Linked DNA regions of Homo sapiens: regions 1, 2, 4, 5 and 6 are each linked to region 3. Evidence: fine-mapped expression QTL. A gene starts in region 3. Each other region holds a variant in brackets. All regions are shown on one strand. Distances are between the middles of the regions.

What was found. PIP is the estimated chance that this variant, and not a neighbour inherited with it, causes the effect.
Region 1: its variant is the best candidate, but not a certain one, in a credible set for the expression of RCBTB1 in lung (TOPMed, PIP 0.51).
Region 2: its variant is the best candidate, but not a certain one, in a credible set for the expression of RCBTB1 in unexposed skin (GTEx, PIP 0.75).
Region 4: its variant is the best candidate, but not a certain one, in a credible set for the expression of RCBTB1 in whole blood (INTERVAL, PIP 0.88).
Region 5: its variant is the best candidate, but not a certain one, in a credible set for the expression of RCBTB1 in whole blood (TOPMed, PIP 0.52).
Region 6: its variant is the best candidate, but not a certain one, in a credible set for the expression of RCBTB1 in esophagus mucosa (GTEx, PIP 0.72).

The regions. Positions count from the first base shown.
Region 1 is chr13:49,546,278-49,551,240 of GRCh38, reverse strand. RCBTB1 (RCC1 and BTB domain containing protein 1) reads left to right here. Exons shown (of 13, transcript NM_018191.4): 9 at 1,593-1,783. Among named protein-coding and RNA genes, the nearest start is that of RCBTB1, 37 kb to the left of the region's middle. The variant C/T (reference allele first, on the strand shown) is at 2,696.
Region 2 is chr13:49,423,811-49,428,773 of GRCh38, reverse strand. All of the region lies in intron 3 of CAB39L (calcium binding protein 39 like), which reads left to right. Among named protein-coding and RNA genes, the nearest start is that of CAB39L, 18 kb to the left of the region's middle. The variant A/G (reference allele first, on the strand shown) is at 2,662.
Region 3 is chr13:49,582,783-49,587,745 of GRCh38, reverse strand. It overlaps RCBTB1 (RCC1 and BTB domain containing protein 1), which reads left to right and starts at 2,188. Exons shown (of 13, transcript NM_018191.4): 1 at 2,188-2,302. RefSeq lists a silencer at 1,955-2,664.
Region 4 is chr13:49,448,899-49,453,861 of GRCh38, reverse strand. It overlaps SETDB2-PHF11 (SETDB2-PHF11 readthrough), which reads right to left. Exons shown (of 21, transcript NR_135324.2): 2 at 1,953-2,309. It overlaps SETDB2 (SET domain bifurcated histone lysine methyltransferase 2), which reads right to left. Exons shown (of 14, transcript NM_001160308.3): 2 at 1,953-2,309. The coding sequence starts at 1,968. Among named protein-coding and RNA genes, the nearest start is that of SETDB2-PHF11, 7.1 kb to the right of the region's middle. The variant A/G (reference allele first, on the strand shown) is at 2,526.
Region 5 is chr13:49,562,285-49,567,247 of GRCh38, reverse strand. It overlaps RCBTB1 (RCC1 and BTB domain containing protein 1), which reads left to right. Exons shown (of 13, transcript NM_018191.4): 3 at 1-94; 4 at 480-630. Among named protein-coding and RNA genes, the nearest start is that of RCBTB1, 21 kb to the left of the region's middle. RefSeq lists an enhancer at 904-1,711. The variant G/A (reference allele first, on the strand shown) is at 2,582.
Region 6 is chr13:49,635,824-49,640,786 of GRCh38, reverse strand. It overlaps LOC105370205 (a long non-coding RNA gene), which reads left to right. Exons shown (of 2, transcript XR_941964.3): 1 at 1-919; 2 at 3,669-4,963. Among named protein-coding and RNA genes, the nearest start is that of ARL11, 9.8 kb to the right of the region's middle. RefSeq lists an enhancer at 4,932-4,963. The variant CA/A (reference allele first, on the strand shown) is at 2,279.

The sequences.
Region 1 (4,963 bases), 37 kb after region 3:
TGATTCTTCTGTTTATTAACATTCTCATTTTGGACAAAAGAGATAACCTTCCCTTCTCCCTTCCCCCTTCCTCCTTCTCCCTCCCTGCTTCCCCCTTCCCCCTTCTCCCTCCCCCCTTCCCTTCCCTTCCCTTCCCTTTTTTGAGACAGAGTCTCTGTCACCCAGACTGGAGTGCAATGGCACGATCTCGGCTCACTGCAACCTTCACTTCGTGGGTTCAAGTGATTCTTCTGCCTCAGCCTCCTGAGTAGCTGGGATTACAGGTGTGTACCACCATGCCCAGCTAATTTTTGTATTTTTTAGTAGAGACAGGGTTTCGCCATGTTGGCCAGGCTGGTCTTGAACTCCTGGCCTCAAGTGATCTACCCACCTCGGCCTCCCAAAGTGCTGGGATTATAGGCATGAGCCCCACCGTGCCTGGCCTATGCAAAAGTGTTTTGAGTAGTAGCCAGAATGAACATGAGGTTGATATGATTCTTATGTAGCTCTCTGAAATAACCACCTGTGATTGATAGGTGTGAATGCATCTTGGTATAATTACTGCAGTCTTGCTGTTGCCCTTTTAGTATGGAAGACAAGTAAGGTCTATGGCCATGTTGATGTTTATGGTGTAATATAAACTTTTACTTTGAGCCAAGTAAAACAACTTTTAAATAAATCTGCTCTTGAAAGGACATTATCTGTTTAAATATTGATTTGATATAATATGTGTTACTGGAATAGATGCTTGATGTTGTTCAGCCTAATTGTAAGGTCTTACCTCCTATGTCCTGGAGTGCTGACTTCTGATTATGAGACCTTACCCAAGAAGCATACTACTGAGAAATATAGTAAGTTTGGCTTGTTTTCCTTTTGGATTGGAACGTTCAGAGTCCGTGACCCCCAGCCAATGCTTATCAGCCCAATGAGTGTTCTGAGCTCTGGTAGGAGATGAGAGAAAAAGTTACATTTATAAAGAAATGGGCCAGGCACGATGGCTTACACCTGTAATCCCCAGCACTTTGGGAGGCGAAGGCAGAGGATCACTTGAGCCCAGGAGTTGGTGACCGGCCCTGGCAATATAGCGAGACTCTGTCTCTATAAAAAATACAAAACTTAGCCGGGTATGGTGGTGCAGCTGTGGTCTGGGAAGCTGAGGTGGAAGGATTGCTTGAGCCTGGGAGGTCGAGGCTGCAGTGAGCCATGGTCATGCCACTGCGCTCTAGCCTGGGTGACGGAGTGAGATCCTGTCTCAAAAAAGAAAAAAAAAAGAAATGGTATTTAAGCCATCACATTTGTTAGGGCATTTTCTCAGTGTCCACTTTCCTCATTTGCTTGGATTTGCTGGTCTGTTTTCCAAGTTTTCCTCGGCGGTCTGTGTGATCTATCCTAACTCACAGTGAGCTGAGGATGAGAAGTGGGCATTTGGGAAAGGAGAACAGTGCTCTTGCCCTGATCTGTTGCTTTTGTTGCTGTGACTTGGCAGCTAGTGTCCCTGGAACTTGGACTGTTTTCTGAGGTATTGCAAGCATGAACTTTTAAATTGCCTTGTGTGGTGTGCTGTGGGCTTCTGTGATCATGAAGTAACATGCATTTTTCTTAAAACTTTTCAGGGTGGTAGAGATTGCAGCCTGTCACTCTGCCCACACGTCTGCAGCCAAGACGCAGGGTGGGCACGTGTACATGTGGGGCCAGTGCCGGGGTCAGTCCGTGATCCTCCCGCACCTCACCCACTTCTCCTGCACCGACGACGTGTTTGCCTGCTTTGCCACTCCCGCCGTCTCGTGGCGCCTCCTGTCTGTGGGTAAGAAAGTGCAGGGCCACCTCCACCCAGGAAGAATGGTACTACCAACTGACCAGTTTTCCTGTGTCTTTGCTGGTTTTGGGATCTCTCAGAATGTTTTATTCTCTATTAGCTTTCATACGTTCCGTCAAAATAGATGTGCATAATCAAATGTATTCATATATTATAAAATATTACCATGAACTTTAAATTTTCTCTCATAAGTGCTTTCATTTCAATTGATATCAAATTCGCATAACATGCAATTAACCATTGTAAAGGGTACAGTTTAGTTGCGTTTAGAACATTCATAATGTTGTACATCCACCTTTTTTTTTTTTTTTATTGAGACAGAATCTCACTCTGTCGCCCAGGCTGGAGTGCAGTGGTGCAATCTCGGCTCACTGCAACCTCCACCTCCCGAGTTCAAGAGATTTTCCTGCCTCAGCCTCCCAAGTAGTAAGACTACAGGCACCAGCCACCACACCCAGCTAATTTTTGTATTTTTAGTAGAGGTGGGGTTTCACCATGTTGGCCAGGCTGTTCTCGAACTCCTGACCTCAGGTGATCCACCTGCCACTGTGCCTGGCCTACATCCACCCTTTATGTCAAATTCTAAATTGTTTTAATCACCCCAGAAGAAAGCCCTTATACGTTAATTAGTCACACTCCATTCTCCTCTCCCCCCAACCCCTAGCAACCACTAGTTTGCTTTTTGTTTCTATGGATTTGCCGACTCTGGAGAGTTCATATAAGCGGAAGCATACAATATGTGACCCATGTGTCTGGCTTCTTTTACTTAATGTTTTTGAGGCCCATTGACGTAATATGTCTCTGTATTTCATTCCCTTTTATGACTGAATAATATTCCATTATATATATATACACCATATTTTGTTTGTCACTTAACTGTTGATGGACATGTGGGTTGTT[C/T]CCACCTTTGACTCTCGTGGGTAGTGCTGTCATGACTGTTCTTGTATAAGTTTTTGGGTAGCCTGTTCTTAAGCACTTCTGTTATACTAGATTTCTTACAGAACTTGATATAATACCAATCAAAGATGAACTTTCTTTTCTTTTTTTTTTTTTTTTTGAGACGGAGTCTCACTCTGTTACCCAGGCTGGGGTGCAATGGCGCGATCTCGGCTCACTGCAGCCTCCGCCTCCCAGGTTCAAGTTCTCCTGCCTTAGCCTCCTGAGTAGCTGGGATTACAGGCGCGTGCCACCATGCCTGGCTAATTTTTTTATATTTTTAGTAGAGACAGAGTTTCACAATGTTGATCAGGCTGGTCAGGAACTCCTGACCTCGTGATCCGCCCGCCTCAGCCTCCCAAAGTGCTGGGATTACAGGCGTGAGCCACTGCGCCTGGTCCAAAAATGAACTTTCAAAAAAGTGAAGAACCGGCTGGGTGTGGTGGCTCACACCTGTAATCTCAGCACTTTGGGAGGCCAAGGTGGGTGGATTGCTTGAGCTCAGGAGTTTTAGACCAGCCTGGGCAACATGGCGAAACCCCATCTCTACAAAAAATAACCAGGAGTGGTGGTGCCTGCCTGTAGTATCAGCTACTCAGGAGGCTGAGGTGGAGAATTGCTTGAGCCTGGGAGGTCAAGGCTGCAGTGAACTGTGGTCGCACCACTGCACTCCAGCCTGGGTGACACAGCGAGACCCTGTCTCAATAAAAAAAGCAAACAACTTGTGGTTTTTAAGGTGACACATTAACCCCATCTTCTTTCTTTCTATCTTTGTCTTTCAACTGATTTCAAATTCTTTTATTTCAGAAGGGCATCAAAACAGAGGTATTATAAAGGGTAGTGGAATTTGGGGTGATATTTGGTTACATAATCTGTACCTTTTCTGAATATTGTCTTCTTTAAGAGTCCATTATTGGCTGAAAAAGCTAGGATGTCTTAAAACTGAGTAGCCATTTACAAGGTGACTTTAATCTTTTTATTTTATTTCTTGTTTATGTTTGCCTTTTTGCTAGCATATTTCTTTTAAGTTGTTTTATTTATAAGCAGAGGGAATAAGTGGGTCATGATGCTCTGTGCTTGAAAATTAATGTAGTTCTTGGCAGTTAAGGTGTTTGGGTTGTTCAGCAATTGATATTGAAGGTTAATTTTCTAAAACGTCATGCTTAGGTGTGTCAGACAGGTGGAGTTGTCCCAATTAGGTGACCAGTCATGGGCATGGAGGCAAGGGTGCTTAGGAAGAGTTAAGCTTGCCTTAAAGTGAAACCAATTGAATACTCCCTTTCACTTTATTTTTGCCATGTTCTTTAGGTATAATACAGTATTTTTTTTTTTTTGCAGTGAGTATTGTGATTGGAAAATAATTGGTTCACTGAATGGGACTATTTGGCCAGAATTGCACATGTATGGCATACCCAGCTGAAGCACTTCTGTACACATCTTCAGATTTGTATATACTACTTAACCTGGACTTGTTATAAAAGGCTTCCCCCAGTTCTTATATCTTAAAATGGCACAGGCATTCTTTTCAGAACAAATGTCCTAACAATTTAAATGTTAAGTTTGGAAAAAATATGGTCATTGACTATATCCTCCTAGATCAGGGGTCCCCACACCCCAGGCCATATGCCTGTACTGGTCCGTGGCCTGTTATTAACTGGGTTGCACGGCAGGAGGTGAGTGGCAGTGAGCGAAGCTTCATCTGTATTTACAGCTGCTCCCCATCACTCACATTACCGCCTGAGCTCCACCTCCCATCAGATCAGCAGCGGTATTAGATTCTCAAAGAAGCGTAAGCCCTATTGTGAACTGCACATGCGAGGGATACAGGTTGCGAGCTCCTTATGAGAATCTAATGCCTAGATGATCTGTCACTGTCTCCCATCACCCCCAGATGGGGCCGTCCAGTTGTAGGAAAACAAGCTCAGGACTCCCACTGATTCTACATTATGGTGAGTTGTGTAATTATTTCATTACATATTACAGTGTAACAATAATAAAAATTAAGTGCACAATAAACATAATGTGCTTGAATCATCCCCAAACCATCCTCCTCCCCGCCTCGGTCCGTGGAAAAATTGTCTTCCACAAAACTGGTCCCTGGTACCAAAAAGGTTGGGGACTGCTGTCCTAGATAACTTCTTTCCCTTCCACCCACTGAAAGTCAAAAGTGTTTTTTCCCTCTCACTTTGTGATCTCATCTGAGTGTTAGACGGAAAGTCACATGGTGAATTC
Region 2 (4,963 bases), 160 kb after region 3:
ACATACTTATTTTTCTAGGCTCCTTGGCACTTAGTGGGTAACTGTTTTATTCTCTTCAGGCCAAAGAGATATAGAAGTTTATTGGAGAGCTCCCTGAACAATATTTTCCCCCTAAGAAAAGAGAAGTTATGTGAAGAAGTTCCCCCTTTCCCTCCCTGTTTCTTTCCTTCCTTATTTGGGTGTTGTAAATGAGACTCTGCCTGGAATTGCCAAGCCACTGCAGCAGCCAGCCTCCAAGATGGCCCCCACCACCTGCTGGTATTTGCGCCCTGTGGATTCATTCTTCTTCCATACTGTGCCAAGACTGGTCTGTGTGACCAATAAAAAACAGCAGAATGTTAATTTTAAGATTAGATTATTAAAGACATTGCAGTTTCCATCTTTATCACGCTTTTGCTGATCACTTGCTCTGGGAGAAGCTAGTCAAGTGAGCATCCCTATGGAGAGGCCCAAACAGCAAAGAACCAAAGCCTCTAGCCAGTAGCCAGTAGTCCTTCCAGCTCCAGTCAAACTTCATGATGATTGCATTCCTGCCTGAGGCTGACATTTGAGTCAGAACCATTGAGCTAACTACTCCTGGATTCCTGACTCTCAGAAACTATGTGAAATAATAGATCTTAAGCTATGTGTTTTAAGCTTACAAGTTTTGGATAATTGTTACACAGTAGACAACTAATTTGATACTGGCACTAGAGGTTGATTGATGCAGTAGACTGATTGTGTCCCCACAAAATTCCTATGTTGAAACTTAATCCCTAATGAGATGGTATTTGGACATGGGGCCTTTAGGAGGTGATCAAGTCATTAGGGTGTAGCTGTCATGAATAAGATTAGTGTCCTTGTAAGAGTCCTGAGAGAGCTTGTTTCGCCTTCCACTATGTGAGGATACAGCGAAAAGATGGCCATCTGTGAACCAGGAAGTGGGCCCTCACTGGACCCTGAATCTGCTGACACCTTCATCTTGGGCTTCCCAACCTCCTGAACTGTGAGAAATAAATTTATATTGTTTATAAGCCACCCATCTATGTTATTCTGATATAGCAGTTCAAATGAAGTAAGATAAGTGATGTCAACAATTTTTTTTTGAGCTAGGGTCTTGCTCTGTTGCCCAGGCTGGAGTGCAGTGATGCTATCACAGCTCACTGCAGACTTGACCTCCTGGGCTAAAGCAGTCTTCCCATATCAGTCTCCCAAGTAGCTGGGATTACAAGTGTGCACCACCACGCCCAGCTAATTCTTTTATTTCTTGTAGAGATATGGTCTTACTGTGTTGCCCAGGGTGGTCTCAAACTCCTAGGCTTAAGTGATCCTCCTGCTTGGCCTCCCAAAGTGCTGGGATTGCTTTGGGAACAATCCCATATGAGCCATGGTGCCCAGCAACAAATATTTTAAGTGGGCATGGCTTTGGAACTTCGTAGTGGATGAAAGGTGAATGGACATTGAAGACACTGTCAGTGTAAATCTAAAGTATCTTGGAGAAACTGTAGACTCATGTTTTTTTGGTGAGGTTGCCAGGAAGGGCTTAAAGGAAAATGGGAGAATCTTTTTAGAAACTGGAGGAAAGGGGATCCTTCTAATATAGTAGCATAAGCTTTATAATGCAACACTGTCACCTGTAGTAATGTAGAAACTAGAATGCACATAATGAACTGAGTACCGTAGCTAAGAAGATTTCCAACTAGACTTGAAGGTGCCACCTGGTTTGTGCCTAAAGAGTGACAGGAGCAAGTATGCTAAAGAAAGGATTGATAAACCTGAAGGTGCTGAGACTTGATAGTTTTGACCATGTCAGCCTCTCCAAACAGTAAATGATGCTAAATTAAGAAATGGCTTCTTCTAAGTGAAAGGGAGAAATAATAATTTTCCTCAACCTTCATAAGTTCGTAGTTGGGACAGACTCCTGCAGCAAAAAACAGATGAACAAGAGAGAAACAAACACGTATAGTAATGCTGCAGTGCAGTTCACATGAGAGAAAAGTAACTCAAGAGTGGCTTAGAGTGGTTTAGAATCCCAGCTCATAGAAAATCTTCAATAAAGAGCAATAAATTGGCTGGGCGCGGTGGCTCACTCCTGTAATCCCACCACTTTGGGAGGCCGAGGCAGGCAGATCACGAGGTCAGGGGAACGAGACCATCCTGGCTAACACGGTGAAACCCCGTCTCTACTAAAAATATAAAAATTAGCCGGGTGTGGTGGCAGGCGCCTGTAGTCCCAGCTACTCAGGATGCTGAGGCAGGAGAATGGCTTGAACCCGGGAGGCGGAGCTTGCAGTGAGCTGAGATCATGCCACTGCACTCCAGCCTGGACAACACAGCGAGACTCCGTCTCAAAAAAAAAAATATTTTAAAGAAGCATATTTTAGGGTGAAATATTCTGGTTTCCTTCTTGAACAAGGATCAGATAGATCCAAGGCATTGTCAGGAAAACTAAGGACAAAGTTGAGAGTGTGGCTGTAAAATCCTTTGTTAAAATTTAAGAAAGATCTAAGTTTCTGCCTCAGAGTACTTTTCAGTCACATAAAAGGGCCTCTAAAGAAAGACTAATGGTGTGACTGACCAATCCATTCAATCAAACAATAGCGCGTCCAAGAAACTTAAGGGGATGGTCCTTATCCTGCAGCCATTTCAGCAGAATCTCAAGGTAGAGGAGGGCTTATCTGA[A/G]AAAGATTTGTGCGTGTGGCTTTTGTTTAATGCAAAGAACCCCAGTGAGATTCCTAGGACCCCCACAAAGCTTTAAGAGGAATGTATTTTAAGGATCACTACTAGTTTGGATTAAAGGGGTCAGAGAGTACAAAATGAAAAGATGCCTTTGGACCCCCAAACTTCTACAAGTAGGAAGCATGATGAGAAAACTGCTTAGCAGAAAGCAAGTGCTACCTTTCATTAAAAAGAAAGAGTGTCTCAGAGGGCTGAACCTGGAAGATGGATCCCAGAGCCATGGAGAATCATTTCCCGATGGAAATAGGACTGAGTCTTAACGAATTTCCAGATTTCCAACATTTCCCTCTGTATTTTAGTAACCTGATTCTATGTACTTTGCATTTCCCTCCTTTTTTGAAAAGGATTGTCTGTAATGACTATCTCAACCTCACTAAAAATTGTGTGGGTCAGTGAATTAACTTGCTTCTTTAGCCCAGGGGTTGGCAAACCTTTTCTGTAAAAAGCCAAATAGTAAATATTTTTAGCTTTGTGCCTGTTTTTGCATAGTTTACCAAATAATTTTGCTACCAGAGCTATGCATTTTGCTATGTCTTGATTCATTTATTGTATTCCTACTTGGAAATTATTCCCTTGGCAATGCACAACTGAACTTTTATACTCATCTCTATATACGTGTGTATAGACATATGTATTTTTCTACATATGCCTATATTTTTGTATATGGATATTTTGGGTAGCAAGCTTTGTAATGATTTCTCCTAGTCTGTTACATTTATTCCTATAATTTTTGTTTTATTGATTGCATAAAAAGTTTTTATTTTTCATGTAAAAATAAAAGTTTTCAATATTGAAATTGTCTTTTTCTTCAGGACTCAAATTTTTCTTCTAAGGTAAAGTAAAAAAATGTTCTCCTGTTTAGTTATTTTTTGACTTTTCTTAGGTTTACTTTTTTAACCTCCTGAAATATATTACCATGTGCATTGTGAAATATTAATTCAGATTCATTCTTTTCTAAACTGACATCCTATTTCATTATTTATTTAATTGGAATTGCTTTGTGCTTGTTACATTTTAAATTAGTTTTACTACTGAAAAGTTTTTGGCCGTGTTTTCTGCTTAATGCATTCTTGTGGATTTTGTCAATCGTAGCTTTATAATGGTGTAATTCTGGTGAAATGAACTCAGTACCATTAACTTAAAAATATATAATTTGATATTCCCATCCTCTCATTATAAAATATACATTAAACTTATTTAGAAATTCCTGTCAGGAGCAAATCTCCATATACTTATTTATTCCATAATATATTCATGTATTCCTTTATTTTCCATCATTGGAATTTTTTGACTTTTAAAAACTAAATTAGTGTTCTGAGAAGTTAATTCTCAAGTTTTAAAATAAGTTTTATTTCTTAAAACCATTCTAGATTTACAGAAAAATTGCGAAGATGGTGCAGAGGGTTCCCATATATCCTACAACCAGTTTATTAACTGTTACATATTAACATGTTACAATTAATGAACTAATACTGATACATTTTTACATTATCATTAATTAGAGTCCATACTTTGTTCAAATTGTCTTGGTTTTTACCTAATGAGCCTTTTCTGTTCCAGGATGCCACGTTACATGTAGTCATCATGTCTCCTTAGGCTCCTTTTGGCTGTGACAGTTTTTCAGACGTTCCTTGTTTTTTATGACCTTCACAGTGTTCAGAAGTGTTGGTTAAGTGCTTTGTAAAAGTGTTCCTCAATTTGAACTTGTCTGATGTTTTTCTCTTTATTAGACTGGGGTTACGAGTTTTGAGGAAGATCGCAGAAGCGCAGTGCCATTTTCATCACATACTGTCAATGTGACTTATCACTGTTGATGTTGACCTTGATCACTAGGGTGAGGTAGTGTTGGTGAGGTTTCTCCACAGTCAGGTTTCCATTACCCCTCTTTTCATGCTGCTCTCTGGAAAGAAGTCACGATCTATAACTTACACTCAGGGAGTGGGGAGTTATGTTCCACCTGCTAATTACTTGGAATTCTTCTGCACAGGAGATTGTCTCTTCTCTCCCGTTTATTTATTATTCAATAGCTTATGTCAGTATGGACTTGTTATTCTATTTTTAGAGATTTTTATTGTTAATAGAGTGAAGTTGCTCCCTTTTTCTTTCCTGTCACCAAAGAATAAGAATGCCATTGAAGTTATAACTTAGAAATTTGCCGAACAGATTTTTCTGTGTTTGTCATTTTAGTTAAATTCCTTAACTTTTCTAGGTCTACAATTACTTTTTGTTCTGTTTCACCTTATAG
Region 3 (4,963 bases):
TGGCCTGGGATTACAGGCATGAGCCACTGCACCTACCTGTTTGTTTTTTCCTAAACAAATAGTACTGTTTCATGTGTCACTACTTTTGAACACATTGCTCTCTCCTGGAATGTCTTTTTCTTTCTTCTTATCTACTTCCTGTCCAACTGACCTTCTCATGAAGTTTCTCCCTGACTCCCTGATTTGTGGTCCCTGGTTTGTGTTCACTTAGCACCTTGTATCATAATACTTTTCACCCTGTACTGGAATAATGAACCAGACTACACATTCCTTATCAGCAACCATGTCTCATTCAGCTTTTAATCCTCCAAGATGCTCCAAGTATGGCATCTGACACATAAGCAGTGAGGGCTCAGGACATATTTGATTGCTCACACCCCATGCCCTCGTTTTTCTCTCAGACATGTTTACACAAGTTCTTTTGATCGGGTTGCAACCAAAAGAAACTGATTTTAGTTTCTTTGAGCAAAACAGGCCTCTTCTAGTAAATTCACTCAACTGCCACTACTTTGGGCAAGCCACTTCATTCAGTGAGTATTAAGGGTCTATCACATGCCAGGCGCTGTTCTAAACCCAGAAGAATCCTGTTTCAAAGAGTTTATAATCTAAGGGAGAAGACAGCAATAGACAATTCACCTTTTACAGGAAATGCGCAGTCTATTTCTGGGCAGTGTGAGGTGTATCAGAATATATATAGTATTCTGGAAATCAGGGAAGAAGTTGCAGCTGACACTGTCTGGATGAACTTCAATTGCTAAAAAATCAGGGAAGAGGATGCTGGGAAGACAAGAGTAGGCGGCATTTGACCTGGATTTTGAAAGATGAGTAGGAAACTGATGTGTACTTTGGAGGCTGTTGAAGAAAACCAGAGCCAAACAGTAGTTGAAGTGGTAAAAACATTTTATTCAGGAACTAGTGCAACAGGAGCGAGACCTCAGAATAGATACAGAACTAAGCTCAATTCTCTTATTGCATTAGTTTCTTAATACCTTTTTTTTTTTTTTTAATCATTGGCCCTGGTTTTCTTTAAGTGGGGGAGGTGGTGATTCAGGACATTTCAGATACAGACAAAAGAATGAACAAAGCAAAAAGGAGTAAAGAAACTTAGAGAAAAAGTAAATAATCCAAAGAAAGTTGAGTAGTCAAGGAAAACAAATTATTTGTAGCCAGAGCCTCCAGTAATGTTGGGGAAGTGGCAAGAGATGAGGGACGGTAGGACTTTTTTAATAATTCAAGTTACCAAAAGTGAAGTTATCTGGTGATATTTAGAAAATGAAATGTTTTTCTGTTTATTCCTAGGAGCTCAAATGGGAAAGGTAAGTGAACAAGTGGCTGGAATGCTATGCCAACAAGTTTGGATTTTATCCTGCAGCGCCAACTGGGAGTTCTCCGAGAGCTGTATGGTATTTTACAAAGGGACTGTAGTCTTTATAGGTGATAGGCTGGAGCAGCTCGTAGCAGTCCCTCTCCTGGCCTCAGTTTACTCGCTGGTAACACGAATCCGGTTGGACCAGATGCCCTCTTAGGTCCCGTCTAACCTCTATGGCATGCTTCCGAGGTACCTCTGCCTCTTTCCAATACCAGGACCTGTGCCTCATCTCGTCCTTCCTTCATACCTTTGTCCAGCTGCCACCTTCCCTAGTCCCTGGCCTGCCTCAGGTACTTTCAATCAGGAAGTGAGGGGCGGGGAGGGAGGGAGGCGCGTCTCCAGTAAAAACAAACTAGTCCCAGCTCCGCCGCCTTTCCTCCCAGGCAGCACCACCTGGGTGGTGCCCCGGGGCCAGACGCGCTCTAGAGTGGGCAGGGAGCCAAGTTTCTCGGTCGCTTTTCCGTCCTAGGTCTCTGGGGTGGTAGGCCGACCCTCCCCACAGCCAAGCCATCTCGGGGAGCAGAGCAGGAGCCCGTGCCTCGCGCGTTCCTGGTTCCTCAGACACAAAAGCCTCTAAGTCCCGGCAGCAGCCACCGGATTTCATGGGGACACTCCAGTGGCAGGGCCTCGGGGCGGGCCTGAGACGGCCAATCGGCTTCTAAAGAAGTCGGGTTGTAGGGCCCGAAGAGCAGGGTTTCGGCCGGGGCCGGGGCCGGGGCGGTGCGGGATGCTCGGCTGGGTAGCGTCCCGGGCGCGCGCTGCACCGGGTCACGTGAGGCGGCCGGGGCCACGTGACCCGGCGGGCCCGGCGCCCTGGCGCTCCTCCTCTTCGCTGCCGGTGGGCACCGCCGCTCGCTCGCACTTCTGCGCCCATTGGAGCTTCGGAGATCCCTGCGGTCCCGCGGGACGGCGCGGCAGCAGCTGACCTCGCAGGTAGCGTGTGGGCGCGGGGTCGAGCTCGCGGAGGCCTCTTCCCCCTCGGCCCTGCCCCTGCTTCCCTTCCCCGCAGGCCGGGCCGGGAGTGCCCCGTTACTCCTGTACCTCCCGCCTCCCTCGCTCGGGCTCCCGGGCAGTCCCTGCGGGCGCTGCGTCCGGGGCGAGGGATGGGGTCCCCGGCCCGGCCCCGCCAGCACCTCAGCTAATGTGCTCTCCTGCGAGGAGGAGGGAAGGATGGGGAGAGGCGAGGGAAAGTTTTCCCTGCCTCCCTCTCTTTTTTGAGGTGCACGGACTCGATTTTGCTCGTAGCTGAAGTCTGACTGCTGTGGGTGCCGTTTTACTGAGAGGAGATCTCCCCTCCGACTCTTCCTATTCTCTCTCCTTTCCAAGATCTTAGCATCTCTCCTTCGTCTCCTGAGAGTAGTGCTGTCACAAACCGTATTCTTTATCGTTTCCCTTTCCGACACAGAATCCACAAAGGCAGGGATTTTGTTAGTGAGGACTTTTATCCAGGCGTGCGGTGAACTCTAAATAAGTGACGTTTCCCTTGTCTGCCTCTGATAAAGTACCTACCTGCTCGGTTTAAGATGACTATCGAGCACGCTGTGTTCTGCTCGCATAAGTGGCCTTTTGTTTTTATTTATTTGCATGTAAGACACTTTCAAGCCATCTGCGGAACTCTGCAGCTGGGGATTACAATTTTATAAAGCAGTCTTGTAATAATGCTTTTAGAAAACCAGATTCATGATCTTCCTTGCTTTTGCCCTATTCTTTTTTTGGGAGGACTAAAAGCCCTTAGAGGACAAAAACTGAGTTTCTGAAACTGGTGTGTATTGTGGGCTAATAACATTAAAACATCAAAGTATATAATGCCGGAAGGAATGGAAAAATGATTGAATCCTGAGGGCAGTTTATAGGTGCTTTAAACTTTAGAGTACTCATTTCAAGTGAGCACTGGGTGAATTTCACCCGTTTAAACTGCTTTCAGGGTCGAGGATGTAACTGTATATTTGGATTCTATTAATATAACAGTTCATCTGTGGGATGGACTTTAATCCATTTAATCCATTGTGTGAATATCAGTCTATTTATTAATACTCTAGACGGGTCCTTTTTCTTCTACCCGCTAGTCTGTTTCTCTTGAAGAGGAAGCATATTCATCTTTAAAGAGATTTTTGCAAGTGATTTTTTTAAGTGTGTGATCCAAATGATAAAGTTCTGTGAACTTCAGAAAACAAGTAGCCATAAAAACCCAAAGCTGTCAAGCTTGTAGCTTTTAAAAAATGATTTGAAAATTTTAAAGCGTGCCCGTATGCTGCAGCAAGAACTTGGCTCCACCTAATATACGGGAGCTGGGAAGTCTGAAACAGTACCCTCCTTTTCCTGGGAGTCATTGTGGGGTAGATGAAACTGTGAAGGAAAGTGAGGACCTTTATTATGATGATGATATCCCTTCTGTGTGTACTACATTAAACAGTAAGTCATGCATAGGAAAGGAGGCTGGGGCCTCACAGAGTCTAGAATCTAGGCAGGGCATTCGGACACATTTCAAAATATTCTCTGGTTTTACAAAAAGTTAAAAATGTTACATATTGGCCAGGCGCAGTGGCTTACATCTGTAATCCCAGCATTTTGGGAGATTGAGGCGACAGATTACACGAGGCCAGGAGTTCAAGACCAGCTTGGCCAACATGGTGAAACCCCGTCTCTACTAAAAATACAAAAAATTAGCTGGGCGTGGTGGTGTGCGCCTGTAGTCCCAGCTACTCAGGAGGCTGAGGTACGAGAATTACCTGACCTGGGGAGGCAGAGGTTGCAGTGAGCCGAGATTGTGCCACTGCACTCCAGCCTGGGCGACACAGTGAGACTCCATCTCAAAAAAAAAAAGTACATGTTGTGTACGTGCTGAAGAATGCACAAGAGGGGTATGATGAGTGTTGTCTGAATTTAGCCAGAATAGACTTAGTAGAGGAGATCAGTTAATGAAATAATTATATAAGTCAACTGTGTGTTAGATCACATTTAAAACACACACACACACACACACACACACATACACAAAAGCACACTTCTTTCCTGGGGTAGAAAAGCTCACAGAGGAGACCAGATGGGTACCTCTAAAGACTTACGGTCTCCAGCTTTCTCTGGGCTTGGTCTTACCATCCTGCTAGGTTTCTCTGCTCAGTGCTCTTTCCCATCCTCCCTGGTGACTGCTTCAGACTTCACCATTTTACCCCCAATTGCTCCACTCCACTTTTTTCTTTTTGAGACAGGGTCTCACTATGTCGCCCAGTCTGGAGTACAGTGTGCCATGTGATCATAGCTCACTGCAGCCTCAAACTCCCAGGCTCAAGTGATCCTCCCCACTCCCAAGTAGCTGGGACCACAGGTGCGCACCACCACATTCGACTAATTTTTTTATTTTTTGTAGAGACAGGGTCTCCCTATGTTGCCCAGGCTGGTCTTGAACACCTAGCCTCAAGCAGTCCTCCCGCCTTGGCCTCCCAAAATGTTGGGATTACAGGCGTGAGCAACCACACCCGGCCTCCACTCCACTGTTTATTGCTACCTCCCCTCTTACTCTTAGCAAAAAGCCTAACTCTTTCTTCATAGGGGAAAAATAGGTGACCTCAGAAGAGAATGGTCTCCAAATGCCAA
Region 4 (4,963 bases), 130 kb after region 3:
TCTGCCAGCTGAAAGGGCCTATAAACAAGGACACTCCAGTAACAACAAATACACCTATCATTCAGACCTTGGTTTCTAATACCATTTTCCAATAAAAATATTGACAGGTTATTCAAGAAATGGCTCACTCTAAGATGCGTAAGAAATATACGAGAGCAATCTAGAGCAATCTTCGAGTGCCAAAAGGGAAGTGCTATAAAACAAAGACAAATAAAAAATACCTACACTGATGACGGTATATCAAAGGGACACAAGAGCCAACTGAGCAGGACATGGTGGTTCATGCCTGTAATCCCAGCGCTTTGGGAGGCTAAGGCGGGTGGATCACTTGAGGTCAGGAGTTCGAGACCAGCCTGGCCAATATGGTGAAACCCCCATCTCTACTAAAAATACAAAAATTAGCTGGGCGTGGCGGCACACACCTGTAATCCTAGCTACTCAGGAGGCTGAGGCAAGAGAATTGCTTGAACCCAGGAGGCAGAGGTTGCAGTGAGCCAAGATTGCGCTGCTGCACATGAACCTGGGCAACAGAGTGAGACGCCATCTTAAAAAAAAAAAGAAAAAAAAGAGCCAACTGAAAGAGCTCCCAATAGCCAAACCCGGGACAATTTGAAAAACAAAATAAATAAAGTAGTACTGGCTTGTAACTCAAAAAGTATAAAATAAATAGCCATGAGTCCATGCTGATATAAATGATTAACTGAATAAATAAACAGGGAAGAAGAGAGAGAGATAAATCTCCCCTGCAGAAATATTCCAAATATAATTAACGTAGATATTCCACATTTAAGGAGGGGGAGCATAAATCCCCACTCCTTAACTGTGGGCTACCTATAGTGATTTATTTCCGAAGAGTATAGCAGGGAATGGGAGAAAAAGAGTAACTTTACAGTGGAGAAATTTGATACCACCACCTACATTAGCCAGCTCAAGCTCTGTTGATCAAGTTCAATATCAACTCTGAGAAATCATGCTGACAGCATGTACCCTTGATATGATGTGATGAAAATGACATTTTACCTCTGAGATCACACTCCCCAAAACCCATCGCTCCAGTCAAATTATGGAAAAACATCAGACAATAATTCCAACAGAGGGGCATCTTACAAAATATTTGGATACAAAATCCCAAAAAAATAAAAAACAAGAAAAGTCTCAGAAACTATCACAGCTAGGAGGAGCCTAAGCAGACATGACAAGTAAATGGAATGTGGTGTCCTGGATGGGATCTTGGAATGGAAAAAGACATCAGGTAAAAACTAACGTGAATATACTATGGACTTCAGTTAATAATAATGTGCCAATATTGGTTCATTAATTGTAACAAATGTAGCATCCAAATGTAAAATGTTAATCATAGATAAAGCTAAGTACCAGGTTTACTGGAACTCTGCAATCCTCTCAATTTTTCTGTAACACTAAAAGTATTTTGGCCAGGTGCAGTGGCTCACCTATTTTGGCCAGGTGCAAGTGCTGTAATCCTAGCACTTTGGGAGGCCAAGGTGGACAGATCATGAGGTCAGGAGTTTGAGACCAGCCTGACCAACATGGTGAAACCCCATCTCTACTAAAAATACAAAAAATTAGCTGGGCATGGTGGCACATGCCTGTAATCCCAGCTACTCAGGAGGCTGTGGCAGGAGAATCGCTTGATCCCAGGAGGCAGAGGTTGCAGTGAGCCAAGATTGTGCTACTGCACTACAGCCTGGGCGACAGAGACTCCATCACCAAAAAAAAAGAAAAAAAAAAAAGTTTACAAAAAAGTCAATTTTTTCACAACTAATGATAAAGACAGTCAAAATTGGTGGCTATACAAGAATAAACCCTTAATTCCCTCTAATTCAGAAAAGTTCCTCGCAATGCAAAACCTTGACAATTCCACATCAGCTTACATTGTCTATATACTTTTATACTTTTAGATATAAAGTGTAACAGTGTGTTCTTCAACCTACCATTTTTTTCTCCCATCTTTTGATGTCGCTTATAAATATAAAATGCTTCAAAATTAGGTTTATCAAATCACTTTGATTGCAGAATATCACTGGAATCCAACTGTGGTCTCTATAAAATTTGCAGTCCTCAGACAAAATACATCATTATACCATTCTAAACCTGGTATCCTTTGATACTTGAATTTTCAAATAGAAATTGTGGCTGAAGAAACTTTCAGAAATGAGTGACAGTCCAACCAAAAGACAAGTCCATGAATCTTCTCACGTAAATATTTGTAGTGGTATCAGATCATTAACATTATCTTTTTAAAAATAAAAACCAACTCCATCTTTTGGTCCACAAATGGATGAAACATTCTGTAAGGAAAACAATAAAGAATAGTGCATATTTGTAAAGGACCACATATATATATATATATATATATATATATGTATATATAAGGAAATAAGATATTGTTATAACAGCTTGATCTTTTAAAACAGCATGAACCATTACAAAAAAACATTATGTTATCTGGAAAAAATATGTAAAGTATCAAAATTAGAAATAATAGAGAAGGCCCACCCAATCCT[A/G]TCACCCATATTTAATATATTTGTATTTATATTACTATCTCCATTTTATAAGTCTTTTATAAACCTTTTAAAAAGGGGATAATACTAACTATCTCACAGGTTGTTCTGAGGACAAGACTTAATTACATATAATGTGCCTGACATACGAAAGATTCAAGGAATACTACCAATTATTGTTATTCTTTCAGAATGTAGTTTTAAAACAAAAATTTGGATTGTAGTATATTTAATTTTTTATAATCTTTCATTAAAAACATTTCCTGCATTTTCCTCCATCACTAATATTTTTGTATAATACAACTGGCTGTATAACATACTTTGGTCAATAACGCATACATTATAGTACATTAAATATTTTAATAATTAAATTTTAATAAAAATATTAATTAATAATATAAACCTCTATATTCGATATTTAGATTGTTTTCCTTTATAGATTAATTTTTAGTATAATAAATAATGCTAAAATAAATATACTTTATACATATCTCTGGCAATTTCCCTAGGATAACATATCTGGAGGTAGAATAATAGGTCAAAAATAGATCAACAATTTTAATTCTCAAGATGTTAGTCAAGATACTGTAAATTCTTCTGCCACTTCCACACCAAACCATGGAAATGTTAGGAGATTTAAAATATATATATATAGCCATGCTGAAAACAAAAAGGGAACTCTCTAAGGGCCAAGTCAGTAAGGCCCTTCTGGGGAAAGGAAACAGATGGGAAGCTATAGAGATGATGGCAACCACAATCACAACAGCAAAACGATGGGCAGGAATCCTCTCAGAGGAGATTAATGCACAACTGAGAGTCCTCAAATATCTGAAGAAGGCTACACTATGAAAGAGACTGAGCTAAAGAAGGAAATCTCATCCATGAAATAACACACAATTTTGAAAAAAAGCCAGTTAGCTATCTTGGATATAAAAACAGTTGTTGAAATAAACTCAATAGATGACTGAATGACAGAACAGACTAACATGAAGAGCCAGTTAGTAAGCTGGAAGACTGAGTTGAGTAATTCACCAAGAACACAGAGCAAGGAAACAAGAGGAGGCAAAAAATTGAGAAAATGGAGAGGAGGCAATAATGAGCAAGAATTTCTCAGAACTGGAAAACACATAAGCAAACTGAATCCACTGAGTACCAACCAGGATAAAATTCTTAACACACATCGCTAGACAAACCGTGACTAACTTCAGAATATCAAAAACACAAAGTCTTAGATGTTTCCAGAAAAATGTAGATTATCTAAAAGGAAGGTGTATTAGACTAGTAATGAGATTTCTCATCAGAAATGTCAGATGCAAAATGTTAAAGCAAAGTCAGTATGAACCCAGAACTCTATATCCAGCCAAGCTATCTTTCCATACTAAAGATGAAAAAAAGACATTTGCAGACATTCAAAGAGTCACTCAGAGACTGTGAAAGAAATAAGTATCTGATGATGAAAAATGAACCTATAAGAAAGCACTGAGGTATACGTAGCAATAGTGAGCAAATAAATGAGTAAAACACATTAATGTTAAATGTAAACTGAATTTAATAACAAATGAAAGAAAAATTCTTAAAGATATCATGAGAGATTATGTTCTTTTCTGGAGGAGAGATGGAAGGGATTGTTTCAAGATGAGAGAAAGCAAAGTAGAAGCATGCTAACTTCTTCTTTACAGGGGCCTTATCAAAACTGACTAAATGTACACTTTGTTAAGAAAACATAAATTTAAGAACTGTGAAATGTAAAGTTAATCAACTTAAAAAAAAATGAACAAAGAAAACTTGGGGCTAACCTCAATTAAAAATAAAAGTGATGCCAGCGCTTTGGGAGGCTGAGGTGGGTGGATCACCTGAGGTCAGGAGTTCAAGACCAGCCTGGCCAACATGGCGAAATCCCATCTCTACCAAAAATACAAAAATTAGCTGGGTGTGGTGGTGTGTACCTGTAATCTGGGCTACTTGGGAGGCTGAGGGAGGAAAATTGCTTGAACCTGGGAGGCAGAGGTTGCAGTGAGCCGAGATCACGCCACTGTACTCCAGCCTGGGCAACAGAGCAAGACTCTGTTCCAAAAAACAGGTGGAAAAATAAGATATAAAAGATACAAAGAGAAGCTTGTTAAATAATGACAAGAATAAGGCCAAAATATGTCAATAATCACAATAAAGGTGAATTACCTATTAAAGGGCAGACTCTCAGATTGGATGGCAAGCAAAACCCAGATATGATATTTTAAAATAAGAGACCCACTTAAATTACACAAAATGTCACAGCAAGGCTGAAAACGAAGAGACTGGAAAAAGACATCTGCAATTATAAGAAGAAACGTATCAAATAAGAGTTGAATATGAAAATCAATAAAAGACACAAATATTTTATGCTGACAGAACAATTCACCAGATTTAATATTCATGACCCTTTATGTACAAATAACATCACT
Region 5 (4,963 bases), 20 kb after region 3:
TCTACTCTCCCCTCAAGAGATCGCGTCTATTCGGAAGGCGTGTGTCTTCGGCACCTCAGCCAGTGAAGCACTGTACGTTACTGACAATGATGAGGTAAGAGTCTCTTGAAACCTAGTTTCGTTTTAGGACTTATTTGGCAATTGGTCTTCAAAGTGTCCAGTTCAAAGATGGAGAAAAGGCGGGGTATAAATAAAGAGATCCTGAAGTTCAGGAAGACTATGGCTTTGATAGTTTCTCTTTTTTCAGTTTCTTGATTTAATACCCGTCTACTCCATAGCACTCTGAGTTTCATAATATAGACAAACATTCTGAAACGTAAGCAATGTCCACAGAGGTTGAATTTTTCTTAACAACCATATCAGTCTCTTTTCACCTCCTGAGCTCTGTAGTTGAAATGTCTTATTTTCAGAGGAGAGAAGGGAGCTTTTAATACAGCTTTCGGTCAAAAGACTCAGAAAAAAAACTATCTATTTTCTAGGTCTTTGTATTTGGACTGAACTATAGTAACTGTCTAGGAACTGGAGATAACCAGAGTACACTTGTACCCAAAAAGCTAGAAGGCTTATGTGGAAAGAAGATTAAAAGCCTCAGTTACGGGAGTGGACCACATGTTCTTCTCAGCACCGAAGGTAAGGAGGGAACCCATCTAACTTTTCAGTTTGTAAGAAATTGACCGGTTAATTCTAAGCTTAGGGGAGATAGGGCTATACCAGATAACTGATTTTGGATTGTTTGCTTCTTAATTTCTGAGAGGAAGTACATAAAGCAGGTGAAAGTTAAACACTTCGGGCTAACTCTGGAAAAGCTATAGGATGTCTTGCAAATTAGGCAAACTTCTGAGGTTTTCGACTGCCTCCATAAAGCTGTGGATGATTAGATATAGCAAATGATGGTCCTTCCAGCCTAATTTTTCAGTGGATTTGTGTTGCAATGCAACTTTTTTATTTATTTATTTATTTATTTATTTATTTATTTTATTTTATTTTTTTATTGATCATTCTTGGGTGTTTCTCGCATAGGGGGATTTGGCAGGGTCATAGGACAATAGTGGAGGGAAGGTCAGCAGATAAACAAGTGAACAAAGGTCTCTGGTTTTCCTAGGCAGAGGACCCTGCGGCCTACTGCAGTGTTTGTGTCCCTGGGTACTTGAGATTAGGGAGTGGTGATGACTCTTAACGAGCATGCTGCCTTCAAGCATCTGTTTAACAAAGCACATCTTGCACCGCCCTTAATCCATTTAACCCTGAGTGGACACAGCACGTTTCAGAGAGCACCAGGTTGGGGGTAAGGTCATAGATCAACAGCATCCCAAGGCAGAAGAATTTTTCTTAGTACAGAACAAAATGGAGTCTCCTATGTCTACTTCTTTCTACACAGACACAGCAACAATCTGATTTCTCTATCTTTTCCCCACATTTCCCCCTTTTCTATTCGACGAAACCGCCATCGTCATCATGGCCTGTTCTCAATGAGCTGTTGGGTACACCTCCCAGACGGGGTGGCGGCCGGGCAGAGGGGCTCCTCACTTCTCAGACGGGGTGGCTGCCGGGTGGAGGGGCTCCTCACTTCTCAGACGGGGCGGCCGGGCAGAGACGCTCCTCACCTCCCAGACGGGGTCGGGGCTGGGCAGAGGCGCTCCTCACATCCCAGACGATGGGCGGCCGGGCAGAGACGCTCCTCACTTCCTAGATGGGGTGGCGGCCGGGAAGAGGCGCTCCTCACTTCCCAGACTGGGCAGCCGGGCAGAGGGGCTCCTCACATCCCAGACCATGGGCGGCCAGGCAGAGACGCTCCTCACTTCCCAGACGGGGTGGCGGCCGGGCAGAGGCTGCAATCTCGGCACTTTGGGAGGCCAAGGCAGGCAGCTGGGAGGTGGAGGTCGTAGCTAGCCGAGATCACACCACTGCACTCCAGCCTGGGCAACATTGAGCACTGAGTGAACGAGACTCCGTCTGCAATCTCGGCACCTCGGGAGGCCGAGGCTGGCAGATCACTCGCGGTTAGGAGCTGGAGACCAACCCGGCCAACACAGCGAAACCCCGTCTCCACCAAAAAAATACGAAAACCAGTCAGGTGTGGCGGCGCGCCCCTGCAATCGCAGGCACTCGGCAGGCTGAGGCAGGAGAATCAGGCAGGGAGGTTGCAGTGAGCCGAGATGGCAGCAGTACAGTCCAGCTTCGGCTCGGCATCAGAGGGAGACCGTGGAAAGAGAGGGAGAGGGAGCGGGAGTGGGAATGGGAGCGGGAGCGGGACAGCTGCAATCCTATTCCTTAATAGCTCACTGGTCTTTGTTCTGCAATGCAACTTTCAGGGTTCCTTTGGTACGTTTTTCTTTTCTTTCTTTCTTTTTTTTTTTGAGACGGAGTCTCTCTCTGTCGCCCAGGCTGGAGTGCAGTGGTGCAATCTCGGCTCACTGCATGCTCCACCTCCTGGGTTCACGCCATTCTCCTGCCTCAGCCTCCCGAGTAGCTGGGACTACTGGCGCCCGCCACCATGCCCGGCTAATTTTTTGTATTTTTAGTAGAGATGGGGTTTCACCGTGTTAGCCAGGATGGTCTCGATCTCCTGACCTCGTGATCC[G/A]CCCACCTCAGCCTCCCAAAGTGCTGGGATTACAGGCGTGAGCCACCGCGCCCGGCATTTTTTTTTTTTTTTTTTTTTTTTTTGAGAAGGAGTCTCGCTCTGTCTCCAGGCTGGAGTGCAGTGGCATGATCTCGGCCCACTCAACCTCCATCTCCTGGGTTCAAGCGATTCTTCTGCCTCAACCTCCCGAGTAGCTGAGACCACAGACGCGTGCCACCACGCCCCGGCTAATTTTTGTACTTTTAGTAGAGACTGGGTTTCATCATATTGGCCAGGTTGGTCTGGAACTCCTGACCTCGTGATCCGCCCACCTTGGCTTCCCAAAGTGCTGGGATTACAGGCATGAGCCACTGTGCCCGGCCGGTACATTTTTCTAAACATAGATGCTACCTGGCTTTCCTTTCTTTGTGCATTGCTTGCATCTTGAATCGGGAAATCTTCATCTGTTCTCTGGCATTCATGTAGTTGCCATATTGAAAGAACCGGGGATGCAGGTTGATAGGTTCTTGTCCTTTTTTACTCTGCCTCTTCAAGATCACTAAGGGAGAGTGGACATTTTGTATGTGTGTGTAATCGATCTGTACTGTGGGCACCCAACACTCTCTGAAAATTCATTATCTATTTAAATGCTTCCTTTTATACTTTAGATACATTAACTCTTGCTCTCTTTCTCTGAGGTCCTCAGCTTTTTGTTGGATAATTGTCTAGGGTGGCATTTGGGAGATGATTTGCATCCCGGCCTTTCTTTGTCTAGACTGAGGAATCACAGCTTCCTAGAATGCTGTCACAGGTTTTAGTATCTAGCCTTCTAAGTGCCTGTAACTCCTAACTGAATCTACTTCAAGTTCTCTGCATCTTTCTCAAGAGAGCTGTGAAATCCAAATCTGAGCATCATCATGTGGTATGAATATAACTGGAGTTGAGCATAATGAGGTGATTATCTCACTTTTGCCTTGCGTAATCATGCCTTCTGGCATCACACTGGTTCTTTCTTTCCTTTTTTTTCTTTTGAGACAGTCTCGCTCTATCGCCTAGGCTGGAGTGCAGTGGCACGATCTCAGCTCACTGTAACATCAGCCTCCTGGGTTCAAGCAATTCTCATGCCTCAGCCTCCGAAGTACAATTAGAGGCATATGCTACCATGCCTGGCTAATTTTTGTGTTTTTAGTAGAGACAGGGTTTCTCCATGTTGACCAGGCTGATCTTGAACTCCCGACCTCAGGTGATCCACCCATCTCAGCCTCCCAAAGTGCTGGGATTATAAGCATAAGCCACTGTGCCTGGCCTTTTTTTTTTTTTTTTTTTTTTTTTGAGGCAGGGTCTCTCTCTCTCTGTCACCCAGGCAGGAGTACAGTGGAGTGATTATGGCTCATTGCAACCTTGACCTCCTGGGCTCAAGCGATCTTCCCACCTCATTTTTAAATTTTTTTGTAGAGATGAGGTCTCACCATGTTGCCTAGGCTGGTCTCAAACTCCTGGGCTCAAGTGATCCTTGTGGCTCGGCCTCCCAAAGTGTTGGGATTACAGGTGTGAGCCACTATGCCTGGCAACTTTTGCTATTTTGTATGTGACTGTTTTTTCCTCTTTGGAAGCTTCAAGGATCTTTTTTTTATTTTTATTTTTATTTTTTTAAGTATTGTGACATAATCATGATTCTGTACTCTGGTGTAATTTTTAATTTATTGTATTGGTCATTTCTGGAAATTTCTTCTTGTAATATTTCATGAATAGTTTCCCTTGTTGGCTGTGTGTGGTGGCTCATGCCTGTAATCCCAGCACTTTGGGAAGCCAAGGCAGGACGTTTGCTCCAGGCCGGGAGTTCAAGACCAGCCTGGTCAACATAGCGAGGCCATGTCTCTTAAAAAAAAAAAAAAAAAAAAAAAAAAAAAAGCCGGGGATGGTGGCACGCACCTGTAGTCTCAGCTACTCAGGAGGCTGAGGCAGGAGGATCAGTTGAGCCCAGGAGTTTGAGGTTGCAGTGAGCTATGATTGCGCCACTGCACTCCAGCCTTTGTGACAGAGTGAGGGTCAGAGTGAGACCCCATCTCAAAAAAAGAAAAATTTTCTTCTTTGTTTTCTCCTTTATGGAATTTTTCTTAGAAAGTTAGAGATTCTGGAGTGATCTTCCAAATTTTTTTTTTTTTTTTTTTTTGAGACAGGGTCTCTCTGTCCAGGCTAGAGTGCAGTGGTGCAATCTTGGCTCACTGCAGCCTCACTGTGTGAGCAGGTGGTTCACACCTGTAACCTCCTGGGCTCAAGCAATCCTCCCACCTCAGCTTCCAAAAGTGCTGGGATTACAGGTGTGAGCCACCATGCCTGGCCTGATCTTCATGATTTTTTAAAAATGTTCTCTCCCATCTGTGTTCTGGGAAATTTCTTCAA
Region 6 (4,963 bases), 53 kb before region 3:
AAGAAGAGCCTAGGCCCTAAGAACTCTATGCTTCATTTACATTTTAACATCCATCAGTGGGACTTAATATTAATAGCTCTCCCTTATTGAAAGCTCGGCTGTAAGTTAAGGGCAGGGACTGGGTTTATATGTCCTTCATCTGTGTATCTTTTAAACATAGCTCAGTGATTTGCTCAAGAAACACGAGTCAAGGCCTGGCACAGTGGCTCATGCCTGTAATCCTAGCACTTTGGGAGGCCGATGCAGGAGGATCACTTGAGCCCAGGAGGTGGAGACCAACCTGGGCAAGATGGTGAGACCCCCATTTCTATTTTTTAAAAATCTTAATTAGCCAGGCATGGTGGCCCATACCTGTTGTCCCAGCTACTCAGGAGGCTGAGGCCAGAGGATCCCTTGGGCCCAAGAGTTTGAGAATACAGTGAACTGTGATCACACCACTGCACTCCAACCAGGACAACAGAGCAAGACCCCCATCTCTAAAAATGTATAATACAATTAAAAATAAAGAAATACAAGTTGACTAGATGAACACAGGATCTCACTTAATTCTCACAAGAACCTTGTCAGGTACTTCCTAGCATCATTTCCATTCTGCGGATGAGGTAGTTACGGCTTAGAAGGGTTAAATAATTGGCCCAAGGGTACCCTATTGGTGAGGGGTAGGGCTGGTGTTCTAGTCAGTTCTGACTGACTTCAAGCCCAGACTCTAAGGCAAGACACTCAACTGCATTTAGACAATGCCAGTTTGGACAAAGGGTGGTCTTGCATCTCCCTTTTTGTAGCAATTCTCTCACAGAAGTATTTTTATAACTCTGAGAAATCTTTATATACATTTCTTTATATCCTTTATATTTTCTCTCCAGGTTAAGCCAGCACTTAACACCACATGAAATTGAAGTTCATGGAATTCAAAGACGAGGTAAAATAAAAATTGCAAGAGATGTGGTGTGTGATGTTTCTAATCCAGAGATTATTTATAATTAGGCTGCCTCCTTTTATTTGAAGGATTGGAAGTGCTTTTATGAGAACCAGTTTGTTTAGGTTTGCAATTTCATGCTTGAAGGAACCTGCAAAAATATCAGTGTGCCCCAGATCAGGGGCAAGCAGGAGGACTCATTGTCAGGTTCTAGTTCGAGATCTAAGGCAGAATAATGCCATTTCTCAAGGAGAATTTAAAAATACTTATCATCTATAGCTACACAGCCAAGTTTCCTGGGGGTGAATGTCTCAGAGGAGTGGAAATCAAGACAATTAAGTGAAAATAAAAGGCTTTTTTCTTTTCTAAAATTGTTTTGTGGCCAGGCATGGTGGCTCACCCCTGTAATCCCAGCACTTTGGGAGGCCAAGGCAGGAGGATCACTTGAGCCCAGGAGTTCAAAAGCAGCCTGGGCAAAAAGCAAGAACTTGTCTCTAATAAAAACATTTTTTTTCTAAGATGGAGTTCTGTTCTTGTTGCCCAGGCTAGAGTGCAATGGCACTATCTCGGCTCACCACAACCTCCACCTCCCAGGTTCAAACAATTCTCCTACCTCAGCCTCCCGAGTAGCTAGGATTACAGGCATGCGCCACCATGCCCAGCTAATATTTTTTTTTTCTTTAGTAGAGACGAGGTGTCTCCATGTTGGTCAGGCTGGTCTCAAACTCCCAACCTCAGGTGATCCTCCCACCTTGGCCTCCCAAAGTGCTGGGATTACATGCGGGAGCCACCACGCCTGGCCTTCTAATAAAAATTTTTAAAAAATAACCAGACATGGGGGGCATGCCTGTAGTCCCAGCCAGTCAGAAGGCTGACATGGGAAGATCACTGGTGCCCACGAAGTTGAGGCTGCAGTGAGCCATGATTGTGCCACTGCACTCCAGCCTGGGTGACAGAGTGAGAACCCGTCTCTAAAAATAAATAAATAAATAAATAAATAAATAAATAAATAAATAAATACTTGTTTTGTTTTTCCTGAGCTGCTGCTCTTATGAGCCATGTGGGAAGGAAACTCCAGGTCACCCTTCACACACTGTAAAAGACTTTCCTTAGTGAGTTCAGGAACAGTCACAGGTGTTCATACTCTTGCCCATGGGGAGGGCCGCAAGTCATGTTGAACTGTGTTCATCATTTCCTAACTAAGCACCCTCCAAAAACCACCTTGAGTTTTCCCTTGCTCACTAGGATGCCTTTGAGTTGAGCAGTTGATCTGACTGATCCTGGGTGTGGCTGAAAGCTCACAGAGTCAGGGGACGATGGGCCTGTGGAGAAAATATTATTAAAAGTCAACCTCTGCCAACC[CA/A]GGAAATCTCTCCACAAAGGGAGTGGAGAAAGAAAACTGTTTCATTAGTGAATAAGCACTCAACTAAAATGTAATGCACATCCCACACAATCCCCTAAGAGACTACAAAGACAGAAAGAGACCTCACCCTTTTATAGAGTCATGCAGAGGTGACCTATTCCAGACAGGTTCTCCACATAGACAATAGCTAGTCAGTCCTCAAGTAAGAGGACTTGACAGCCCCATTTGTTGCACAGAGTTTACCACAGATTCACCTGGTAACTGATGTCACCATCTATGTTAGCTAATTGGCTTTATTCAAAGGAAAAACAAACCTCTCATAGCTTTAGGACAGGAGGTAGTTTTGCAACTTAGAGCGAGGCACCTGCCAGGTCAGGCTCCTACCCTCCCATTGAAACTCTTGATGACTACGTTTCAAAAGGTTGGCTCCTTGGTCCTTGAAAAAGATATTTCTAAGTCCTAAAGCTGCCAAGAGGCTTATTTAGCTTCTTAAATTTATTATTTATTATTATTTTAAAGCACAGGGCCCCTGTTGCTGCCCAGCTGGAGTGCAGTGATGCAATCATGGCTCACTGTAACTTTGAACTCCTGGCCTCAAACAGTCCTCCTACCTCAGCCTCCAAAAGCGCTGGGGATAACAAGCGTGAGCCCCCTCACCTGGCCCTTATTTAGCTTTTTAAAAGATTTACATACATCTCAAAGAGACAGAGGAAAGAACTTAAAAGTTGAAGTTTCCTAAAGTAAAATCTCTAAGAAAAGGGAGGGAGGTGAAGTCTCTTCCCTTATTTTCCACAAGGAGAATTAAAACTCTTATTTTTTTAGTTGATACATAATAGATGTATATACTTTTGAAGTATATGTAATAATTTGGTAACATTAATATAATCAAATCACGGCAACTGGAATATCCATCACCTTAAACACTTATCCTTTCTTTATGCAGCGGAACATTCAAATTATTCTCTTGTAGCTTTTTTGAAATGCATATTAGATTAATGTTAATTATAGTCACCCTACTGATCTATCAAACAGGCCTCTTCTTTCAATGTGAATTTGCAGACTAGGCGCAGTGGCTCATGCCTGTTATCCCCACACTTTGGGAGGCCAGGGCAGGAGGATTCATTGAGGCCAAGAGTCTGAGACCAGCCTGGGCAACATGGCAAAACCATGTCTCTACAAAAAATTAAAAATGAGCCGAGTGGGGTGGCTACTCCACGTAGTCTCAGTTACTCAGGAGGCTGAGGTGGGAGGATCATTTGAGCCCAGGAGGTGAATGCTGCAGTGAGCCAAGATCGCACCACTGCACTCCAGCCTGAGTGACAGAGAGAGACCCTGTCTCAAAAAAAAATTAAAAAAAAATTTTTTTTTAAATTGTATTTGCTCTTACAGGCCCAAGAGGCAGCAGCAAAGGTCAGCATCTCCACCACCCCATCAGGTCTTGCCCATGTTGACCCAGGTGCTGGGACAGGAGGCACACACTGAACTTACTGCTCCCGTTGACTTCTCATCTGGTTCCAGGTCTCCACTTTCCACCCCTTTTCCTCCACAGACTAAAAGCTAAGTCATTCTGGGTGTGACGTGTGTCTAGAAAGAGTGTGTCTGGCTTCTTGTTTTTACCACAAAGTGTGCCTGAGATATAGGTCTGTGCCGCCATTTTGGCTCTCAAGCCAGGGAACCTCTTGGTGTTCTCATTTTGGAATTTTATTCTGGAAAGTTCGGAGGACCCAGGGACTCCTTACTGTGATACCCGATTCTCTGGCTTTAATCAATTATTCATTATTCACTCAGGTACTTAATGAACAACTCTCAATATCTAATTTTGTTCCAGGCTTTGAAGAGGGTCAGAAGGATGGAAGACTTGGCCCCTCCTCTCTAGTAGTGTACACCATGCCTGAGGAGACCACATATCAACATGGAACAGCCCCGGTTAGGGCACAAGGGCGCTGGGGCCTGGACAGTCATGCCATGGGAGCTCAGTGGGAGGCTGGACTTAGGCTGAGGTGCGTGGGGAGAGCTTCCTGGACAGCTGGGATCTAAGGATGCTTAAATCATGGACAGGAAAGCAGCTGCAGCCTAACGAAGAGCAGGGGTGTTAGGAGGCTTCCCTAAAGTTCTGTGACCCTGTAGAACTGTTGCCACTGCTATGGTCACTGCTGCAACTACAAGCACTGCATCTGGCATGGGAGCTTGATGGACCAGAGCACATGCAAAGAGGGCATCGGAAATCCCAGAAGGGTATGCGGGACCTTGTACCCTGTGGGATTCCCATGCTTACTTCAGGCAAACAGTAAGCCAGTAAGTGGATGGCTGGCAGAGCTTCCCCCAGACTCTGAGGCTCTCAAACCCATCTTTCGTGCAGAGAGAATTGTGTGGTTATCATCCCCAGAACTCACCTGCTGAGTAATTCGATGCGAGTGATTTGATGTTCAGTCCCTCCTAGCAGGAGGCAGACCAGCAGGGAGTTACAGTTAACACTAACTGGGCATGGCTATTGAGGCAGGAGAGTAGGGTCTGGAGGCAGGGAACCTAAGGCTGATTCGCGCCGAATTCCTAGAACTGAATCAAAAAGAAAAGCCCACCTCTCCACACCCAAATAACAAAAGGATCAGAGGCTACTCCCTTTGCAACCCCCCAACTTCCCCTGCATTGCAGATGAAAACTGAAAGTACCTCTGATTGGTCCCC